Regions from separate parts of the Homo sapiens genome. Here region 2 is linked to region 1. Evidence: fine-mapped expression QTL. Tissue or cell type: subcutaneous fat. Region 1 holds a variant in brackets; the other region holds the start of a gene. All regions are shown on one strand. Distances are between the middles of the regions.

Region 1 (9,974 bases):
CTATATACATATGCATACTTTTTTTTCAACATTTATTCATTGAGTTAAAGGCAACAATTAAATTCTACTTATAAAATCCTTAGTCATGAGAAGTCAGTCCATTTTGTGCCTAGACCTTATGGCCATTTCAAGAGCCACATAATGCCAGGCCAATAAAATTAAAAACTTGTTACTGAGATCTGTGAAGATTGCTCCTATGTTGCTATAAATATAAAACAATCATTTATTGTTTAGACACAGAAAGTGAAAATAAGTTCTATAAATCATTGGGTTAGCTACCATATGGTAAAAGCTTAAATTCAATATTCATTGTACTTGAAAACAGGCAATATGTGTCTTTTGCATGAGTTTAGATAGTGATGTGTGATCATAGTGGGGTAAGTGTTTCTGGCAATTGAATTTTCCAGGAAAGGGAAAATGCTTTGTGGGGTCAATTGAGGAATGTATAAGGTATCCTGAAGAGCCGGGACATTTAACAGGCCATCTCTTGGGGTAGGACACTCAGGGTTCCCCTGGTCACACAGATCACTGGAACAAATTGCTGTTACACAGACCTGGTGTTGAATCCCAGATATCCTTAGTTATGAGCATGTTGACTTTGAGCGAGTCACTTAACCTCTTGGTATTCCAATTTCCTCAATTCAAGTTGACCATGAGTGAATAGCCATGTTTTTCCCAGAAATTTCTAGATAAACCATTTTCTTCCTCAGACTCCAGAGCCCTGTGAATTTTAGATCCTTTTAAAACTTGGGAGGAAAACATCTACTTTCTATTGGTGTTGAATGTATTATAAATAATATGTGTAGAGTCCCTGGAACACAGTTAGTGCCCACTAACCGTACTGCGCAAATGTTCAGGAAGACAGGAGGAAGGCAATCCAGGAGAACTGACAGAGTTCTCCTTGCTTCTCTTCCCACTCCGTCCTACGTAGTGACTCTGAGCCTTTGAACTCCGGCTGCTGAAAAATGGGAGAGATACTTATTTTCTTTGATTAAACCACTGAAGGTCTGTGTAATTTTTTGAATGCCATGGGATTTTCAATTCACTCAAAAACCAGTGCTTATGCTGCTATGTTTTCATTACACATTTTCCTTACCTTCCCCAAATCCTAGCTTTATCCACTCTTTCATTTATTTGTGTTTATTCACCAAATCTTTATTTAACACTACTGTGTTAGATTTTAATGCGAGAGGAATTTTTTACACCTGCATTTCTCTAACTTCCCATATCTGAGGAAGCACCTGAAACACAGAGCTCAAGACCAGCACCACTTAGCTAAAAGTCTGGTCAAAAGATCACATTGATGATAATTGTAAATGAACTGACTATAGGGTCCAAAAGATTCCATGTTGCATTCAGAGTAAAATGCAACATGGCTTTTTGTGTGGCTCCTGCTGACCTCTCTAGGAACACCTCCCCCCACTCTGCACCAAATATTTTAGAGAGCTCAAGCATCTCTTCCTCCCAGAAACATTCCTAAAGTCCTAGCCTCCTCCCCATCTCCACTGTATCTACCACAAGGTACTCTAATTTTCTGCTGAACTGATCGCTCCTCCTAGAGGCCAGTGGTTCTCAAGCTTTATGGAGAATCAGATTTAGTGGGTCTGGGGTAAGGCAAGAGAATATGCAATTCTAACAAGTTTCCAGGGATGCCAATGCTGCTGGATAGAGATCACACCTTAAGAATATCTGCTCTAACCTACCAGTTCTAACAAGAAAAAAATCCCAATTTACTTTATTTTGTATCCCTGATACCTAACACAGTATGGCATACAGTAGACAGTCAAACGACATTTGTTGAATAGAAATAATGTATGAACTAGTGAATCCCTTGTTATTTTGTGTTGAATGGAATGACAAATTGGTCTCCAAGTGTAAGAACCCAAGACACTCCTCCATCAGTATTAAGTTACCTCTTATAATAAGTAGAGGGAAAGTGCTCCTCTCCTGGCCTCTGAGCTCCAGCATACTATCTGGTGCTGCTGAAAGTACAACTTGAAAATGCAATTTATTTTAGACAGGTTCTCACTCTGTTGCCCAGCCTGCAATGCAGTGATGCAATCATAGCTCACTGCAGCCTCAAACTCCTGGACTCAAGCGATCTTCCTTCCTCAGCCACCCAAGCAGCTGGGACTACAGGCACATACCACCGCACCTGGCTACAATAATTTTTGCATTTTTTGTAGAGATGGGAGTCTGATCTAAATTTTATTTTTAATACATAAAATTATGAAAGGCTTGATTTGGCTGAAGACAAAAATGTAAACAAACCTTCTCTATGGTTAAATATTCCTTCTTTAATAGTATTCATATGCAAATAAGTAAAAGAAGACAAGTAAGATACTGGCATTAGAAATATGTCTTGAAGGCCACTAAGTTTATTTCAAAAAAAGTATGAAGTGCTCTTTCCCAAGATCAATACCTTAAATCAAGTTGACCAAATTTATTTGATAATCTGAGAGTTTTGTTTAAAGTACAGATACCCAGGACCCTCCTGTGGAGAGTCTAAATTTCAACAGCATATAATGGGGCCCCCAGAAATCAGTCTTTTTTAACAAGTTTCAGGTGGGGCCCACATAGTGATTGCTTTAAGCTGCCCATCAATTAACTAACTAATTAACAAGCAGCTAGTACTGAGAACCACTGCAGGAACTCACGTAAAAATTTTCTCATGAAACTATTTTTGGCCTAATATTTTTCACCTGGAACAGGTTAGGTCATGGTGCAAAAAGCCAGGTTCTCAATCTGGAATGTTACTTTCTTGCCCTTTGGTTTCCTGGAGGGAATAAATGTGTAAGGCATTTCTACCACAGATCAAGTTTTGCGTCATGACACAATGGGGCATGAGCCACTCCAACAATAACAATAGAACCATTAGTCAAAAGACCTCAGGAAAAAGGGAAACCTGTCACAGGATGACGACAATTACCCAATTATTCTGAACATAAAAAGTAAACCTTTAATATTTGTCTTATGGCATCAGAACTATGGCATGATCTGGAGAAGTAATTAGCATATTGGAATTTTATGCTGGTACAATGTCAGGGTAAAATAAAGGTGGGCTCTGGAATGTACGGTGGGGAGGGTGGAACTAGAAATGGTCTTGCATTTGAGTACAAATATGGTGGTATCAACAATTAACTTTCCGCTAAAAAATAGTTTTCCTGTTTATACGTATGTACTGGTAGAAAAAAATTTGATGTTGTTAGATATTATGTTTGGAATAGGACTTCCTTTGAGATAAGGTTATTTAAGATGATAATTTTAATTCAGAAAGTGAAATGTTCTATCTTTTAAAAAATCAGATTATCTTGAAATCATACGTGCTTTCCTACCTCACTTCACTCACTTGCCTTCATGTTAAATCTCAAGAATAAAATCCAAGCATTTCAGCAAATCACTCTACATTGACCTCTGCCCAAAGATCTAGAGGAGGCCAGTCAGGCTTCGAAAGGACTGAGGCACTTCGGTTCATTAAATTGTTTAATATGAGCACTAATTTTTACAATCGTGTAATAAAAGTAGGTGTTTTCCAAAATGAACCGTAGACAAAGATAGAAAAGAATATATGCCTCTAGGACACACACCCATGGGGACTTTACAGCTAAGAAGTCGTTATTTTGCTAAAAATTAGTGTTGCAAAGTGCCATTCATTGTTAGCATAGCACCAGCACATAGGAGTCACCAGATGAATGTTTGATGACATTAGTTTTCTTTTATAACTGCCCATGTCTTTCATTAAACAATGACCATCAAAGAAATTATTTCTTACAAAAGAACAATTTGAGGAATGAGAGGCTGCAAATGTACAAACTACAGTTCACTGCATTTTTAATAAGAATTTTGAGCACAATAAAGATTTTATATCCAAATATATTATGAAAAAATGGATGCTAATGCTATGTTAAAAGGTTACCACACTAGGTTTATTTGCCTCTTTCTTCTTTTCTCATATCCTAAGTCATAGGCTTTAAAACAAAATCAGGTCTGAGATTCATGTAATCGTCCCCATTTTAGTGTCTGTGCCGTCTTTGGGCATCACTTGGTCCTGTCCGCCAGTGATCATGAAGGGAGCCTGGTCTGCACTGGCTAGGAAGGGAGGCATTGCAGCAGGCTCTGCCTCGGTCCACGCTTCACTCCCACCCGATCCCCCACTGACTCAGCTCATCTTCAACATCTTGTGTGGAAGATAAAATCATTGTGATGTACAGAAAAATCTACACCGAAAACAGGAATAAGAACAACCTCCCTCTCTCCTATCACCTGAATTCACATGGCTACTTAAAGTTAGTAAATTCAATAAAATTAGAGTTTAGTTCCTCAGTTGCAGTAGCCACACTTCCAGTACTCAATAGCCGTCTGTGCCTAGTGGCTACCATATTCATTATTGCAGGGATAGGAAGGTCTATTGGACAGCGCTAGTCTCCAGAGGGCCAGCTAAGGAGGGGAATAACGGTCCCCTAACCACTTGACACGTTAGCCAAGGAGGAGGAAAGAAAGAAACAGTGTAGTTCCCTTTTTTCCTTAGAAAACTGTTTTACTTCCACCAAAACTAGCCTGAGTGGATTCCATCCTTTCTCTTCCCCAAATCTTGCCTCCTTCCTGACTACAGTGGGGAAAGAAGTGGTAGTGTGTGAGAGATTTTGAAAGCAATTTTAAAAAACCAAAACAATGCATATATCTTGTATTTCGAATGGGCCAGGCACATTGGCACAGTGGCTCATGCCTGTAATCCCAGCACTTTGGGAGGCCAAGGTGGGAGGATCACCTGAGGCCAAGAGTTCAAGACCAGCCTGAGCAAGATGGTGAGACCCTGTTTGTAAAAAAAAAAAAAAAAAAAAAATTAATTAGCCAGGTGTGGTGGCACACACCTGTGGTCCCAGCTACTTGGGAGGCTGAGGCAGGAGGAACCCTTAAGCCCACAAGTTCTAGGCTGCAGTGAGCCGTGATTTTGCCACTGTGCTACAGCCTAGGCGAGAGAGACAGACCTCATCTCTTTTTTTTTTTTAAGTGATATGCCTGCATTTGCATTGCTGGCTCATGCTTGAAACCAGCTCACTGAGGTAACTTCTATATGGAAGTTGCTCCTGTAATCCCTAGGTGTTCCACATGGGCACATTGATTCAATTGAAGTTATTTTAGTAAGGCAATCATCATACTGATTGTTACTTGGAATTCGTATTCATGCTGCTTTAAGTAATAGCCTTTAACTTAATTTCAAAGCTTTAAAATAATTGTTTTAATATTGATGAAGACCGGTCTTGCTACCAATCTTAAATAAAAATCTTATTGGCAACAATCCTACATATATTAGAATATAAAAAGAATAATAACCAATAGTAATGAAGTCATTTTTTTCTTCTTCATGTCTGAAGAGCACACCCTTCTATTTCCAACACACATGGGTGAAGCTGAAGAGACTGACTATGGTAGACATTAGTAACATTCCCCCGTATTCAAGTGTTCTCCACTTCAGGACACACAAAGATTATAATTCCCCCATCCCCCTTATTTTATACATAGCTATGTAATTATTTCTGGCCAATGAAATGAGAAAAGGAAGTGAAATGCATTGTTTCCAGGCAAAAGCAGTAATTGGCAGTCTGTGACTCCATTTTTCTCTTCCTCTCTTTGATGAGCTCTGAAGTACTGCAAGGGCAGGTCACTATCTGAAGATGGTCAAACCTCCATCTCTCTAAAACATGATCTT[C/T]CTCTGCTGGCATAAGAAACTGTTAGTGTTACTTTGAGATATGAAACCAGATTTTTTCATGTGTCTGTCAGTTAAATACCATTATTTAATTCTTTTAGGGCTCTTTTTGAGAGTGAGTCTCCAATAAAACTCTATTAGGATGTGCTATGGTTGTTTTTTGTTTAAGGTGGAAACAGAGTTTTGCTATGTTGTCCAGGCTGATCTCAAACTCCTGGACTCAAGTGCTGAGCCTCCCATCTCAGCCTCTCAAAATGCTGAGCCTCCCATCCTAGCCTCCCAAAATGCTGAGATTACAGCATTTGTAATGCCACATTAAATCTTGTGCCATGGATTTAATCAAACACAAACACATCAGGCTGAGCGTGATGGCTCATGCCTATAATCCCAGCACTTTGGGAGGCTGAGGCAGGCAGATTGCTTGAGCCCAGGAGTTTGAGACCAGCCGGGGCAACATGTTGAAACTCTTTCTCTACCAAAAATCACAAATTAGCTAGGCGTGGTGCGGCACCTGTAGCCCCAGCTCCTCAGGAGGCTGAGGTGGGAGGATCACCTGAGCCTAGGGAGGTCAAGGCTGCAATGAGCCAAGATCCCACCAACCTGGGCTGTGTGCCTGGAGCTGTCCTTTCAGTACCATCTGAAATGTCATCCGTGCCCTGACACCACTGCTGTATATTATGTGCGTGTAGGTGAGCTTCATGTGAACCTTCCCTGACACGTCTTCCCTCCTGTGCTCATTGGAGTGGACCTCCATTGTGCATATCATGGTGCACTGTTAATTATTCATATTTAAGACAGAGAACTTCTGGGAGGGTGTCTTATATTACCCTTTTTCCTCCAATATGTAGCACTTTGTCCGAGAGAAGATAAGTACCAAATGTTTGCATGGAGAATGAATAAACAGATGTATTTACAAGTCTGCTCATACCTGGAATGATCTAGAGCCACAAAGAGCCAACTCCCTTTCTTTACAATTAACTTCATGTTATTGTTGCCATATTTTAACACTCCTAAGATGACTGCCAATTAGCATACTATATTATAAAGTAAGAGAATGGTGAGTCATTTGTTGAAAGCCTTTAAAGATCATTCACTAGCACTCAAGGCAAATGATATATGGATAAAAATAGCCAAAAAAGCACAGATTGGGATGATATACTAATATAATTTTAGAAAAATGATTCCCAACTTTTTAGAAGTGTCATACTTCGTAATTGATTATTGGGTTTTATGACATTTCCTTATCCCAGCCTTAAAATGCTGTTGTTTTATATATTTACTTTCAAAAGGCCTAGGTAAGTGATCAGTTTACCCATATATTTCCTTCTATTTCTCCTTTTCAGTTTTGAAGACAGACAACAATTTTCCTCTATGTTACTTTCAACTATTATGCTCCAACCACAGCAAGAGTAACTCTGAAAGGTTAATCCCTTGGTTCTCAACCTGGCTACATCTTAGAATCACTTGGGGAACTTTGCTAAAAACACAGATGCCTAGGCCTCACCCCCAAGAGATTGTGATTTAGCTGACTTGGGTATGATCCAGATTATTTTAAAAACCCTACAGTCAGGATTGAAAACTACTAGTTTAGTCAAATCATCAGTTGGAAAGAACACTGGACTGGGAATAAAAGGGTCACTCATTCATTCAATACACATGCTTGTCAGCCTTCTCACCACCTACTGAATACTATACTAAGCCCTGGGATGCAAAGATAAATGAAGCACAGCCCTAGAGAGGTTCACCGTCTGACTAAATAGAAAAGTAAATTACTTAAGTGCTCTAATTAAAAGAAACAGGGGACTATGACAGACCAAAGGAGGAGGGGAATTACTTAATCCTGGCTGGGAGGGTTAGAAAATTCTTTTTGAAAGAACTACATTGTCCGGGATGTTGAACAAGGTAGCATTTAACCTGGCAAGAAAAGGATAACAAAGACATCCAATAGAGAAGACAACATTCATGAAGTATAAAATTGTGATACCGTCAGGGAACTGAAAGCAGTTAATGTGTCTAGAGCTTGCCATTGGGTAAGTCAGGGAGGCAGCTGTGGAAGAGGAGGGGGAAAAGCAGGCAAGGGCCAGGTCATGACAATCCAAGGGGCCTCAGTTCTGACAACAAAGTCATCACAAGGTCAGAAGCCACCTGGCTATCTATGAGATATACAGTGACACCTGAAATATATTGCCACTGAATTGCGATATACACCTTGCAATGAACTCCTGTTCCTGCCCAGCAACATGAAGGCATGGCCTACAGGGACAGGCCAAGGAGTGGCTTAGAGTGCTTTAGCTCCTCTGTAATACCTGTTTTTATTCGCCTCTTCCAGGGGCTATCTCAAATGAAAACAAAACCTTGTTGTTATACAAACACAGCTTCAGTACAAGTCCTTGAACACCTCTTCCAACTGCAGGTCCTCCCCTGAGCCCCATCCTGCCTTTGAAGTGGTATTACATTGTGGTTCAGCTCACAGTTTCTGGAATCAGACCATCTAGATCCAGATTCTGCCTCTTATTACTTACCAGCATTATTATCCTGAACAAGATACTTAACTTATCTAGGCCTTAGTTTACGTACCTGTAAAATGGAATTATAAACAGTACCTCTTTCAGAGGCTGTGAGAATGCACTGAATGTACAGCACTAAGCACAGGGTCTGGCACAGAGGCAGCATTCCATCTGTATTCGATCTAAAGCTCCACTGCAATCAAGGTGGTCCTCACTCCAGCAGCTCCCATGTCACAGGGACATGAGTGAGAAATGCCACAGCTTAGGCCCCACTTCCAGTCACCTAAACCAGAATCTGCTTTTTAACAGGATCCCCAGGTGATTCACATGCACATGAAAGTTTGAGAAACACCGCCACAAAGTATTATCTAGCTGCAGCATTCTAAAATTTTAAATCTCAAAAGCGGGGAATGATCCTGTTTACTCAAAGTAAGAGTGCTGAAGGCAATGGTTCTCGACCTTCACTGGGCATCAGAATCACATGGTGAACTTCTAAAGAAATCACATATGCCTGGGCCCAACTCCACCAACCCTATGCCACCTCCACCTCCCTAGAGATTCTGATTCTGTTGACCTAGGTGAGTGGAACCCAGGCATCTTTTTTTTTCTTTTTAACAAAGCTTCCCACATGATTCTAATGATATTGAGACCCACTGGTTTAAAGAGAGCATTAAATTCTGACAAAGTCTACATGGCAACTGGGCTTATCAGGAAAGGAAGCTGAGTCGGTAAAAAGAAGCTAATCTGTGAGTTGAGGAAGCAGTTCCACTGAGACCTGCCAGGCGTTTAAAACCTCCGCTGTTCTCCTCAGGCTGTAACGGCCTTACCTTCTCCATGTCTGTACCTGTGGTTTCTACTCCAGTCCTTCACTCCCCCTCTCCTTAAATCTTGATGAAGGCGCTTGACTCTAGCGTGGCACATTCACCTCCATTGCACCTCTGTCTGCTTCCTCCCCAGCAGCAGCCCTCTATGGCTCAGGTACTGTCTGGTGACTCAGTCCGTACTGCCCAGTGCCCCACTGTGTGCTCACCCACATCCTATGTTTTTGACCCAGGGCTGGTCCTCGATCCTGGTCCTGATGAGAACTAGAAGACACTTTCTCAGGGCCATAATCCCGAGGAAGAAAGAATACAAACCTTCCCCAAAACACAGAAGGCTCAGCAGGCTAGGGAGAGATCTGCCTTCTTGAAGACAAGAGAACCAGCTTCTCCAAGCTGCAGCTGCTGACGGTTATGCCCCAGTGCTCCTCCTCCCAACTCCAACTAATTTTAGCAGCAAAATATCTAATAACACAGAAGAAAATTAAACAATTAAGTGTTGCAATTGTAATCTTTAATTTTGAAAATTTCATAGCAAAATGCTCTGAGATTGACCCAAGGGTTAGAAAACACTGATTTCAAAACTTGCTCTTATAAATTAAATCATTGGTTTAGTAGCACTAATTCTAAGTGCAATGGGAGGTCATTGAAGGGTTTGAGTAGAGTTCAAACGTAATCCAATTTGCATTTTTTAAAGACCCTTCTGGTTGCTGTGTGGCAAATAGAATGCAGGTGGCAAAAGTGAAAGCAGGCAGACCAGTCCAGAAGTGACTACGGGGATCCAGGAACAAGATGGTGGGAAGCTGGACTTGGGTGATGACAGCGAGGATCAACAAAGCCTGTGAGATTCAAGAGATGTTTTGAAGGTAGAATTAACAGGACTTGCTGATGGATTCAATAAGGTGGGAGGAAAAAAGAGGAACCAAGGATAACTCCTAGGAT
Region 2 (9,974 bases), 980 kb before region 1:
GCAGCAATAGGAACGTGAGAGGCTCCAGCCAGCTCCAGGCTAAGAAGGAGACGGTTCTACTCCCAGCTCCCCTGCCCACTAGGAAAGAAAAACAGTAAGTCACTTATTACTTTTTCCACAACAACTTCAGAGGTGGGAGATTTCTCTGTTCCTGACTTTTCTGCCTAGGATGGGGATAAGTCTCATCGAAGTTAATTCTAATTTTAGCCTAAACCTAAATTAACAAATAGAATGAGCATCTCGATCTCCCATGCCCTCCCTTCCTGATAGGGACAGTTAGGAATTGAGGGCTCTCACCTCACAAGAGGGACTTACTGCCCCTCTCCTCCCCCTTAAGAGCATCTCCTTCAGAAGTGGAATAAAACAGTGGTATTCTGGGTGGGGAAAGAAAGAGAGGATGAGGGTGAAGCTGCTTTGTCCCTGAGATTTCTGATACTGCTTTCCTATAATAATATCAGGAAAGACTGAAAACTTAAAACTGGACACCAGCCTCTGGGAGGACCACTGCTTAGTAAGATTGTCTTCTGGGCTCTCCAGCAGCAATCCTGAAAAATTGATGTCATACCCATAGAGCTGGATAACAATCTAAAGCATTGCCATTCACCTTTAAACCCATTGATTTTCCTCCTCCTTGGTTATCATTTGGGTCCTCATTTCCCCCTGGAAATTGCTCTTTGTTTTGAATTGGAGTAGAAGTGGCAAGTCCCAGCCATGCCTGATTCTTCTTTGAAGAGGAGAAGACAGGTTTTGGGGGCACTGGTTGGGGCTGAGGAATTTGAAACCAAGCTGAAGCTGGAAAGGGAGGCTGAATTGCTCCCAGGGTGGGAGAGATAGGAAGCAGGGGTGAGGGGCAGATGGAGCGGCTACCCCCTCCCCAGTGGACCTGCACCCACCCGGCCCGATTGCGCAGAAGGAAACACACAAAGGCCCATTTTCTCCTCGCTTCTCGTTTTCCCACTGGGAAAACCCTGTTACAGGCGACCTGACTCGGGCCCAGTAACTAGTGAGGTTTTGCCCAAGGGTGCGTGGAGTGGGGGAGGCGATGGAGATCGAAATCTGTCATAATCCGTGGCTCTGCTCTTGAGGGACTGCGGTCTCCGGCTCTGCGGAGAACTTTGCGCAGTTCCCGGGGGCGGGCACCTGAAGCAGGGAGGTCTGGGTATTGGTGGGGTATCTGGGCCTTGTCATTTTTCTGTGTGTTATATGTGTCTGCTTTATTATCCTGTGGAATTTAAGTGATCCCCGTTTTCATTGCAACAGGTTCAGGACCATGAGAGAGCGCCGCTGTAAGTACCTTCCCGCTTCTTCCGAATCGCGAAGAGACGGTACTGATCGCGGGGAAGTGGTGGGCTAAGGGGCCAAGCCAGCGGAGTGGGCGGATAGAAGAAAGGCCCTGCCTCCCCCACCCCACCCCCACCCTCCACCCCCGGCCTCGCTCTGCGAGGTTAGCCCGCTTCGGGAGGTGGAGGCGCTAAATCGAGGTCCCGGAAAGCTTTTCTGGGGCCTGGTTCACAGACACCTGCCTGAGAGAACGGTCCGCGGGGTCTCGCCCTTGTCTCCTTGGGCCTCCCTAGACCTTCGCGGCCCTTCCCTGCTCTGCACAGGTGCAGCTCCGCCAAGGCGCTCACTTCTGTTAAGAGCTTGCTAATTAGCAGCCTGTCTTATTAGCGGCTTCAAACCAACGCAGTAAACACCAAGGCAATGCGGTCCCCTCCGCAGCCCAACCCTTCTTAACCTGGTCTAGCCTGGCCAACCTTCTGTTTTTAAAAAAATTCACTGAAAACAAAAACTCAATCCTCTGTGGCCGTGGGTGTGTTGAGTTGCCCGCTTCTGAGCTTTATGTGGACATTCCTTCCCCGCCCCTCCCCCGATCTGTTTGCAGCGGTGTGGGCCCTGGGCTTGGGACACTGGCTGAGCGAGGAGGGATACGGACCTTCTTTTCACCTCTGCTTCTCTGTAACTGCAGTTGGAGAATTTCCGCCCCAGAGGCGCTGGTGCTGCAAGGAGGCATAGGAGGGTGGAGTGGGGTGGATGCGGTGGGGTGGGGCCAGAGACTCGTGGGATCCTTGGCTTGGATGTTTGGATCTTTCTGAGTTGCCTGTGCCGCGAAAGACAGGTACATTTCTGATTAGGCCTGTGAAGCCTCCTGGAGGACCATCTCATTAAGACGATGGTATTGGAGGGAGAGTCACAGAAAGAACTGTGGCCCCTCCCTCACTGCAAAACGGAAGTGATTTTATTTTAATGGGAGTTGGAATATGTGAGGGCTGCAGGAACCAGTCTCCCTCCTTCTTGGTTGGAAAAGCTGGGGCTGGCCTCAGAGACAGGTTTTTTGGCCCCGCTGGGCTGGGCAGTCTAGTCGACCCTTTGTAGACTGTGCACACCCCTAGAAGAGCAACTACCCCTATACACCAGGCTGGCTCAAGTGAAAGGGGCTCTGGGCTCCAGTCTGGAAAATCTGGTGTCCTGGGGACCTCTGGTCTTGCTTCTCTCCTCCCCTGCACTGGCTCTGGGTGCTTATCTCTGCAGAAGCTTCTCGCTAGCAAACCCACATTCAGCGCCCTGTAGCTGAACACAGCACAAAAAGCCCTAGAGATCAAAAGCATTAGTATGGGCAGTTGAGCGGGAGGTGAATATTTAACGCTTTTGTTCATCAATAACTCGTTGGCTTTGACCTGTCTGAACAAGTCGAGCAATAAGGTGAAATGCAGGTCACAGCGTCTAACAAATATGAAAATGTGTATATTCACCCCGGTCTCCAGCCGGCTCAGCAGGCTCCCCCAATTTGTCTGGATAGAGCCTAGGCCCAGTGTCCCAGGAAGGTGGATACTTGGGAGTCTTTGGCATTCAGGGAAATTGGGGGGACTCTCCTGGGATAAACAGATTCTGCAGCCTCATAGCCCTTGTTAGAACTGGCGCCCCCAAAATCCCTACGAAACAGGTAAAGTGGTGGAAGCAAAGGATGGGGGGATGAGCAAAGTGCCAGGCTTGGAGGGGGAGTATCCCTGCCCCACCCCACCAGGCCCAGGCCCAGGCTTGAAACTAAATTTTGAATTATGTGGGAGGTAGGAAGGGCAATCAAGACAGTTAAAAAAAAATCTAACACCTTCAGCCTACAGTTAGGCACCCAAAAGCCCCACTCGAGCCAGGGCATCCCTGTGCCCCTGAAATCCATCGAGGCTCTGAGTGAGTCTGCGCTCTCCATGCCCTGAACTGAGGGACAAGCACTGCACAGTGCCGAGGCGCTGGGGCGGGTGAAATTTGTGAACTTTTGTACTCTTGTGTGCTGCTGTCGGCAAAGCAAAAATAATGAAAGTTTGTGATATGTTTGTAAATGATTTCGAATGACCCCTCGCCCTGCCCTTCACCATTAGCGCGCCGGCCTCAGCCCAAGGCGGCTCGGTGCCTGTGAGCAGCGCCTGCCTCGGGGTCTGCAGCAGCAGCGGAACGGAGAGGCCAGCCCGGATCAGGGCCCATGAAGGTAAATGCGCGACTTCTTGGAGAAGTAGCTTTGGCAGACAACCTGGCTTGGTCGGGCAGTAGGAAAAGGAGTAGACACAGGATATTCCCCTCTCGCTTCTTTTTCTTCTGCCGCTGAGGGCATTTGTTCCTTTCTGGAAAATACCACTTGGTAAGGAGGAGGGTTATTTGGATCCTGGTGGGGGAGGGTGGTTAATAAAGCCGCCATCCTTGGGATGGATTATTTTTCTTTCTTTCTTTCTTTTTTTCTTTCTTAAGAAGAATATTCTGGTTGTTCGCCTGCTTGGTAACCCTGACCCTGGCAGAAGAATGAGGGAACTCATTGCTTCAAATTGTCGCCAAGCCCATTAGGCTACCTGAACTGTCTCAGAAAGTGCGGGTGGCTGCGTCGAACGGTGGTGGCTCAGAGGAAGAGATTGGGGCCGGCAGCGACCTAGGTACCTCACTCTGGGTGGGACCCAGAGGTTGTAACGTTGTCTATATATACCCTGTAGAACCGAATTTGTGTGGTATCCGTATAGTCACAGATTCGATTCTAGGGGAATATATGGTCGATGCAAAAACTTCACGTTTCTTCGGAATAGCCAGAGACCAAAGTGCGACATGGAGACTAGAAGCAGCCGGCGCTGGTCAGCCGCCTCGTTCTGTTTTATTACCTTGGACTCCAGGAGGATCAGCTGCGCCTGGTGACATAGAGCAGCTTTTCCTCTCCAGAAGCTCCTCACCTTTAAACAGAGTATCCTCTGGGTGCTGAAAAGAAAGAAAGACAGAAAGAGAGAAAGAGAGAGAGAGAGAGAAAGAGAGAATGCAAGCCTAATTGGTTGCATGGATGCAGGGCCAAAGGGCTAGGTTTTGGGGTACTAGGGAGTGAGGTACAAGGCCAGCTTGCCCAGTCCCAGCTCTGCCCTCCAGGAACATGAGGTGCAAAGGTACCCAAATGGGGGCTTGCTTGTATTTGGGGCCTGTGGGAAGAAAGCAAGCTTCAAAGAAGCCCAGTGGGGAGCTCTAGGGTGCATTTTGACAAGGTGGAGGTGCCCTTGCCACCATCCCAGCCCACCCCCAGCTACATGGGCAAGGGCAGCGAGGGCCCCCTGCTATTTTGGCAGGGCCCAGCTTTGGCTGGGAACCCCCGGGCCTGGGCACTGGTAGAAAGCATGGCGGTTACTCATTGCCTAATTTGATTCAAGCTGGCCAGATTCTGGTAACTTTTGGGTGACCCTGATGAAGACAAAGCCAGGACGGCGGCCTTTGTATGGCAGAATCCCTGCTCCCGCCGGCTGCAGGCAGGGCGGGCAGGCAGGAACCCTCCTCGCCTGGGGCACTCTGCCCAACTCAGAGGCGAGTTCACCCACCCACCTTTCATTGCTCTGTACCCCAATAGGAGGATTCATTCTCCCTTGAGCTGTGCCTACTTGGTGTCGGGGGGCGGGGGTTGCATTCAGCTGGGGGTGAGTGGAAGGGCCACGGAAGGTTGGCAAAATCAGTGGCAGACAAAAGCTGGGATTACCTGAGGGGAATGGGGTGCTGGGGACTGGAACTACATTAATATCTGGCAGGGGCTCTCAAATGTGCCATAGCAAGCTACTTGATTACACGTATGTTATTTAGTTAAATTTGTGAAAATTATGAGATGCTCACCAACCCGGTGATAAACTTGCTCCCTCGCCATTGGCTGGCCTGGTCACATGGCTGCCCAACTTTATTCAGTTGACAGCAAGTAGGAGGGCCCTATGGAAGGAGAAAAAAAGACAACACGAGAAAAATTAGTATTTTCTACCTTCTGAAATTAATGGTCATGAGTTCGTATATGGTGAACTCCAAGTATGTGGACCCCAAGTTCCCTCCGTGCGAGGAGTATTTGCAGGGCGGCTACCTAGGCGAGCAGGGCGCCGACTACTACGGCGGCGGCGCGCAGGGCGCAGACTTCCAGCCCCCGGGGCTCTACCCACGGCCCGACTTCGGTGAGCAGCCTTTCGGAGGCAGCGGCCCCGGGCCTGGCTCGGCGCTGCCTGCGCGGGGTCACGGACAAGAGCCAGGCGGCCCCGGCGGTCACTACGCCGCTCCAGGAGAGCCTTGCCCAGCTCCCCCGGCGCCTCCGCCGGCGCCCCTGCCTGGCGCCCGGGCCTACAGTCAGTCCGACCCCAAGCAGCCGCCCTCCGGGACGGCACTCAAGCAGCCGGCCGTGGTCTACCCCTGGATGAAGAAGGTGCACGTGAATTCGGGTAAGGCTAGGGTCCAGTAACCTTTCTGTCCACATCCCAGCCCGTTAGCCTGGGTCCTCTGGAAGGGGGTGCGAGTAGGTGGGGGCGTGTGGAGCTTCCATGGGCGCCGCAATTACTCTCCCCATAAATTTTTATAGCTGAGGGAGCAGGTCAGGACCATGTGGCTGGCTGCTCGGCTGTGGGCGCAAAAGGGGGTGGGGATGGGGGGGTGGGGGAGGACTCCATTTTCAGAGCAGGGGGAAGGCTGTGGAGGAGCGGGGGATTTCCAAAATGCTTGAGGGTTCCGGACCTGGTGGTGGGCCCAGAAGAAGGAGCACATTTGGGGATCCCGCAAGCCTGGGGTATGTGGGTGTGTTTGAGGAGGTGGGTGGGAGTGAGCGTGTGCGCCGGGGAGAGGGCGGGAGGGAGGAAGCAAGCGAGCTTGGGAGCGCGCGGGGAGGGCCGCGGGCCTCGGGGCGCGCCAGGAAGTGAGCGGCGGAGGCGAGGGGCCTAACTAGTGGCCGGGCGCTGACCTGCCTGTCCTGTCTGTTTTGTCTCGCAGTGAACCCCAACTACACCGGTGGGGAACCCAAGCGGTCCCGAACGGCCTACACCCGGCAGCAAGTCCTAGAACTGGAAAAAGAATTTCATTTTAACAGGTATCTGACAAGGCGCCGTCGGATTGAAATCGCTCACACCCTGTGTCTGTCGGAGCGCCAGATCAAGATCTGGTTCCAGAACCGGAGGATGAAGTGGAAAAAAGATCATAAGCTGCCCAACACTAAAGGCAGGTCATCGTCCTCATCTTCCTCCTCATCTTGCTCCTCCTCAGTCGCCCCCAGCCAGCATTTACAGCCGATGGCCAAAGACCACCACACGGACCTGACGACCTTATAGAAGTGGGGACCCTGGGCCCATCTCTCCCTGCGCACCAGGCTGAGCCGAAGCTGCGGGGGCAGGCCGGGCCTGCTGTCACCTCGCTGGGCTCTAAGGTACTGTGGGGTGGACCTGGGACAAGCAGGCCGCCCTCGGACTAGGTTAGCATCCTGCCCGAGGGCAGCCCCCTCCCTAGAGCGGGATGGGGATGGGAGGGGGGGCGGGATTCTCTCTCTAAGTATATTATATGGCAGGAGCTACTGAGAACATAAAATCTTGGCGAGTCATTAAACTTATGAAAATCACCGCTCTTGGATTTTGAATTTGCAAATGAAGGTTGGATGCTTTATCCCACTGTGAATTTGGACATTCTCCCCCACTCCACCCCTCCAGGGTGCTTTGTGGCTTAATAATGTGGGGGAGTTGAGGCAGAAGGTTGGCCACCCCTGTGCTAGGTGCTTTCAGTGGAAGCCAGAGAGCTGGGTCAGGATTTCTGGACTTTCTGGGTTGTCTATGGAATTTCATGTGATTAAAAAATATATATTTTGCTCCCAGTGGCCCCACCTCCAAAGAAATGGGTCTAAGAAGGAAGTAAAAATGGGTTATTTTATGTTTAGATATTTGCTTAAATATTTATTTGTTGGGAAATGTGGTACAGAAATAACTGACACCTTCATGCCAAAAATCTTAAAAAGGTGAAAGGGGCTGAACTTCAGGGAGCAGAATCAGAGATATGTGCACTTACTTCTGAACTCCACCCCTCCCCACTCTCTGGAAATGTATATAGGGGGGCCTTAACCCTTCCAGAAGGAAGCAAAGGATTCACTCAAAGTTGCATTCTTGAAAATATATTTCCACATGTGTTTTTTTCAGCACTGTGCTTACAACCAGTTCTGGGTGATTAAAGGAAAGGGAAAAAAACCAACAAATGGTCCAACATTTTCCTTCTGGGGAAAGAAAACAAAACCTCTATGCACTGGGTCATTAGATAATGACTGAATTTTCTGTTCCAACTGGATTCCAAATGCCCTAAATACCCTCATATAGCAGTGTTTTACAGGAATTAGTGTATGGCCTGTGTAGGGGAGGGGCTGTGCAGTGGGGAGAAAGTGGGAAGGTGAGGAACTCTTGCTTTAAGAAGGAAAAAAAAAAAACCCTAATTGAATCTAGAAGTCCACAAAAGTTAGCCTTAGAGTTTTTTTCCCCCTGAAGTTTTAATTTTTTTAAAAACCAAATCTAAGGAAGTTTTCCTCAGCTCATTAATTAGAAGCAGAATTTGTAAAAGTATAAAAGTTTTCAAGCACTCGTCTTTGCCTTGAGAATAGTGGTTTTTTAAAGAATCACTCTCAACAGGGGAGATGTCCTCTAGTCGTTTTTCTTCTGCCTCTCCTGGGAAGGGTTCAAAGTTCATTTTTCTAAAATGCTGACCCTCAAGCATAAGGAGGAAGAAGTCAAAGTTAATGGCCAGAGTTCATATACTCAGATGAAACCAGTCTTCCCAAGGCCTCAGGCTCCAAAAAAGGTTGTAGCTATCAAAAAGTGACCAAAGTGGGAAAGGGAGAAAGGATAAGCTTAAAATTTAATTTTAAGATCCAGAAGGGGGGTATTTTTTTCAGTACTTCAAAAACACTTTAGAAGGTTTCTGTTGTAATTTAAAAAATATATTTAAGTGGGAGGGAAAAAAGAGTTTCTCTGTAGGCTTGTTCTTTGGCTGTGTCTCCTGAGAGCTGAGGGCAGGTATTCACTGCAGTCCCTAGGCTGAAATTCCGCTTCTCTGAAGTGTCTTCCAAGCCTTGGTCTTTTGTATTAGACCCTGGGGACTGCTCTTTGTTTCTCCTTGGGGTGAGCCTGGCTCTCAGACTTGCACATGGCAATACTTGAATGTCACCACGTCGGGATATTAAAGATGGATATTCGTGCATTATTCACATCATTGTTTCTATGACAAAAAGCACAGAGTTCATACATAGTCAAGACGTCTTTTTTCTGACGCCCTCACGTTGAGAAGCTGAAAAGGTATTTTACCGAAGTTCGGGTAAATTACAGAATCAGGTTCATCCAGAGGACAAATTTTCTATTTGATTAGCTGTATTTCAGCCGGGAGGACTGACCTCTAAACCCCTAACCTTTTGGACTCTAACTACCCTTCTCTTCTTTTTTCCTCTCTAACATGGAGAGCAGTCTTTGGATGTACCATTTGAAAGGAGCCGCTATCCTTAGGCAAGTTGGAAAGTTGCTAAGCTGCTTTCCTAAAACCCAAATCTGTCTATACATTGAACCTTCTCTTTGAGAAGGGGAAAAAGGTATATATTTTCACAACATCCAATTACATATATATAATAGAGATTTGTTGTATAGATTTTCCCCCACCTCAGAAGTTCAGGTTACTCACCCCCAGTTTCATACCAAATGCCACACAGGCTTAACTGACTGCATCCCTGCCCCAGAGGAAAGCCAAGAAACATGTTTTCATGAGGAAAACCCAAGCTCCTTCTCAAACATAGCCCCACTACTTTGGAAAGTAACTTAATCAGAGAAACAACTTCTTTGTTTATAAGTCTCAGCTCTCCTTCTCAGCTTGGAGGGATTCTTTTGAAATGTTAATGGAGCCTGGATGGCCCAGAGTGCAGCCCCCAACCCTGAGGTCCCAGTCGGACCCCAGCATCCATTTGGGCCCACAGGAGTGGGCCAGGGAAGGGGTAGGGCCCCGTAACCACTTAGGGCAGGGAAGGAAATGGGTTTCCATCTGAGAACGTGCTTTGGAGAAAGCTAGGTGTGGAAAAGCTCCAATGCCCATTTGCTATTATTTGTTTCCAGTTTGTTCCTTTAAATATGAGCCAGAAGTGTTTGTGTTGGTGTTTTAAAAACAAAAACAAAAACCGTGTTGGGGTCCTGACTGGGGGAGGGGGAGAGTGAAGTGTTTGCTGAGGACATTGCTCCTCTGACTCCCATCTCACTTTGTCCATCGCAGCCTTTTGTTGGGAGATGACACTGTCAGTCAGCCCATGATGTCTGTTCACACGAGATGCTTTTTTAATAGAATTGACCAATGTTTTGCTGCCACTGATTAAAGTATTATTTATACTAATTGTTGCTTGTAGTTTTGATGTAATTCATTGATCTATATTTAAAATAATAAAAGGTGTAGCAAAATCTCCCTCCTGTTTGGTGCCTTAACAGAAGCATTCATCCTTTGTTAAGTCTTCTAAAAGCTAACATTTAACATAAACAAGTTATTATTTTCTGCAATAAATTAGGCACCATTTTTTGGGGGGTGCCTAAAGTGTGAAGGTTAAACCATGTAAGGCTTAGCAATTCTATTATTACCACCTCCTTAATGTACACACACTCCCAGTTGGCCACCATATTTTGTGAGCATTGGGAAGCCTGGGGTTGAATTCAGGGTACAGAGTGTTG

Direction of the effects. Positions count from the first base shown, and alleles are read on the strand shown. Sizes are in standard deviations (SD) of each study's normalised expression.
For the expression in subcutaneous fat of the gene that starts at base 5,186 in region 2, allele C in region 1 goes with a lower level than allele T (small effect, 0.23 SD a copy in GTEx).

The links. PIP is the estimated chance that this variant, and not a neighbour inherited with it, causes the effect. A credible set is the group of variants that fine-mapping cannot tell apart.
Region 2: HOXD4 starts here. The variant in region 1 is the best candidate, but not a certain one, in a credible set for the expression of HOXD4 in subcutaneous fat (GTEx, PIP 0.66).

Annotation. Positions count from the first base shown.
Region 1 is chr2:177,121,712-177,131,685 of GRCh38, forward strand. All of the region lies in intron 1 of LOC105373760 (a long non-coding RNA gene), which reads right to left. Among named protein-coding and RNA genes, the nearest start is that of MIR4444-1, 86 kb to the right of the region's middle. The variant C/T (reference allele first, on the strand shown) is at 5,711.
Region 2 is chr2:176,146,365-176,156,338 of GRCh38, forward strand. It overlaps HOXD4 (homeobox D4), which reads left to right and starts at 5,186. Exons shown (of 2, transcript NM_014621.3): 1 at 5,186-5,702; 2 at 6,244-6,862. The coding sequence starts at 5,270. The coding sequence ends at 6,578. It overlaps MIR10B (microRNA 10b), which reads left to right and starts at 3,939; the gene lies at 3,939-4,048. It also overlaps a transcript of HOXD3 not described here. RefSeq lists enhancers at 1,833-2,376, 4,905-5,638, 8,903-9,406.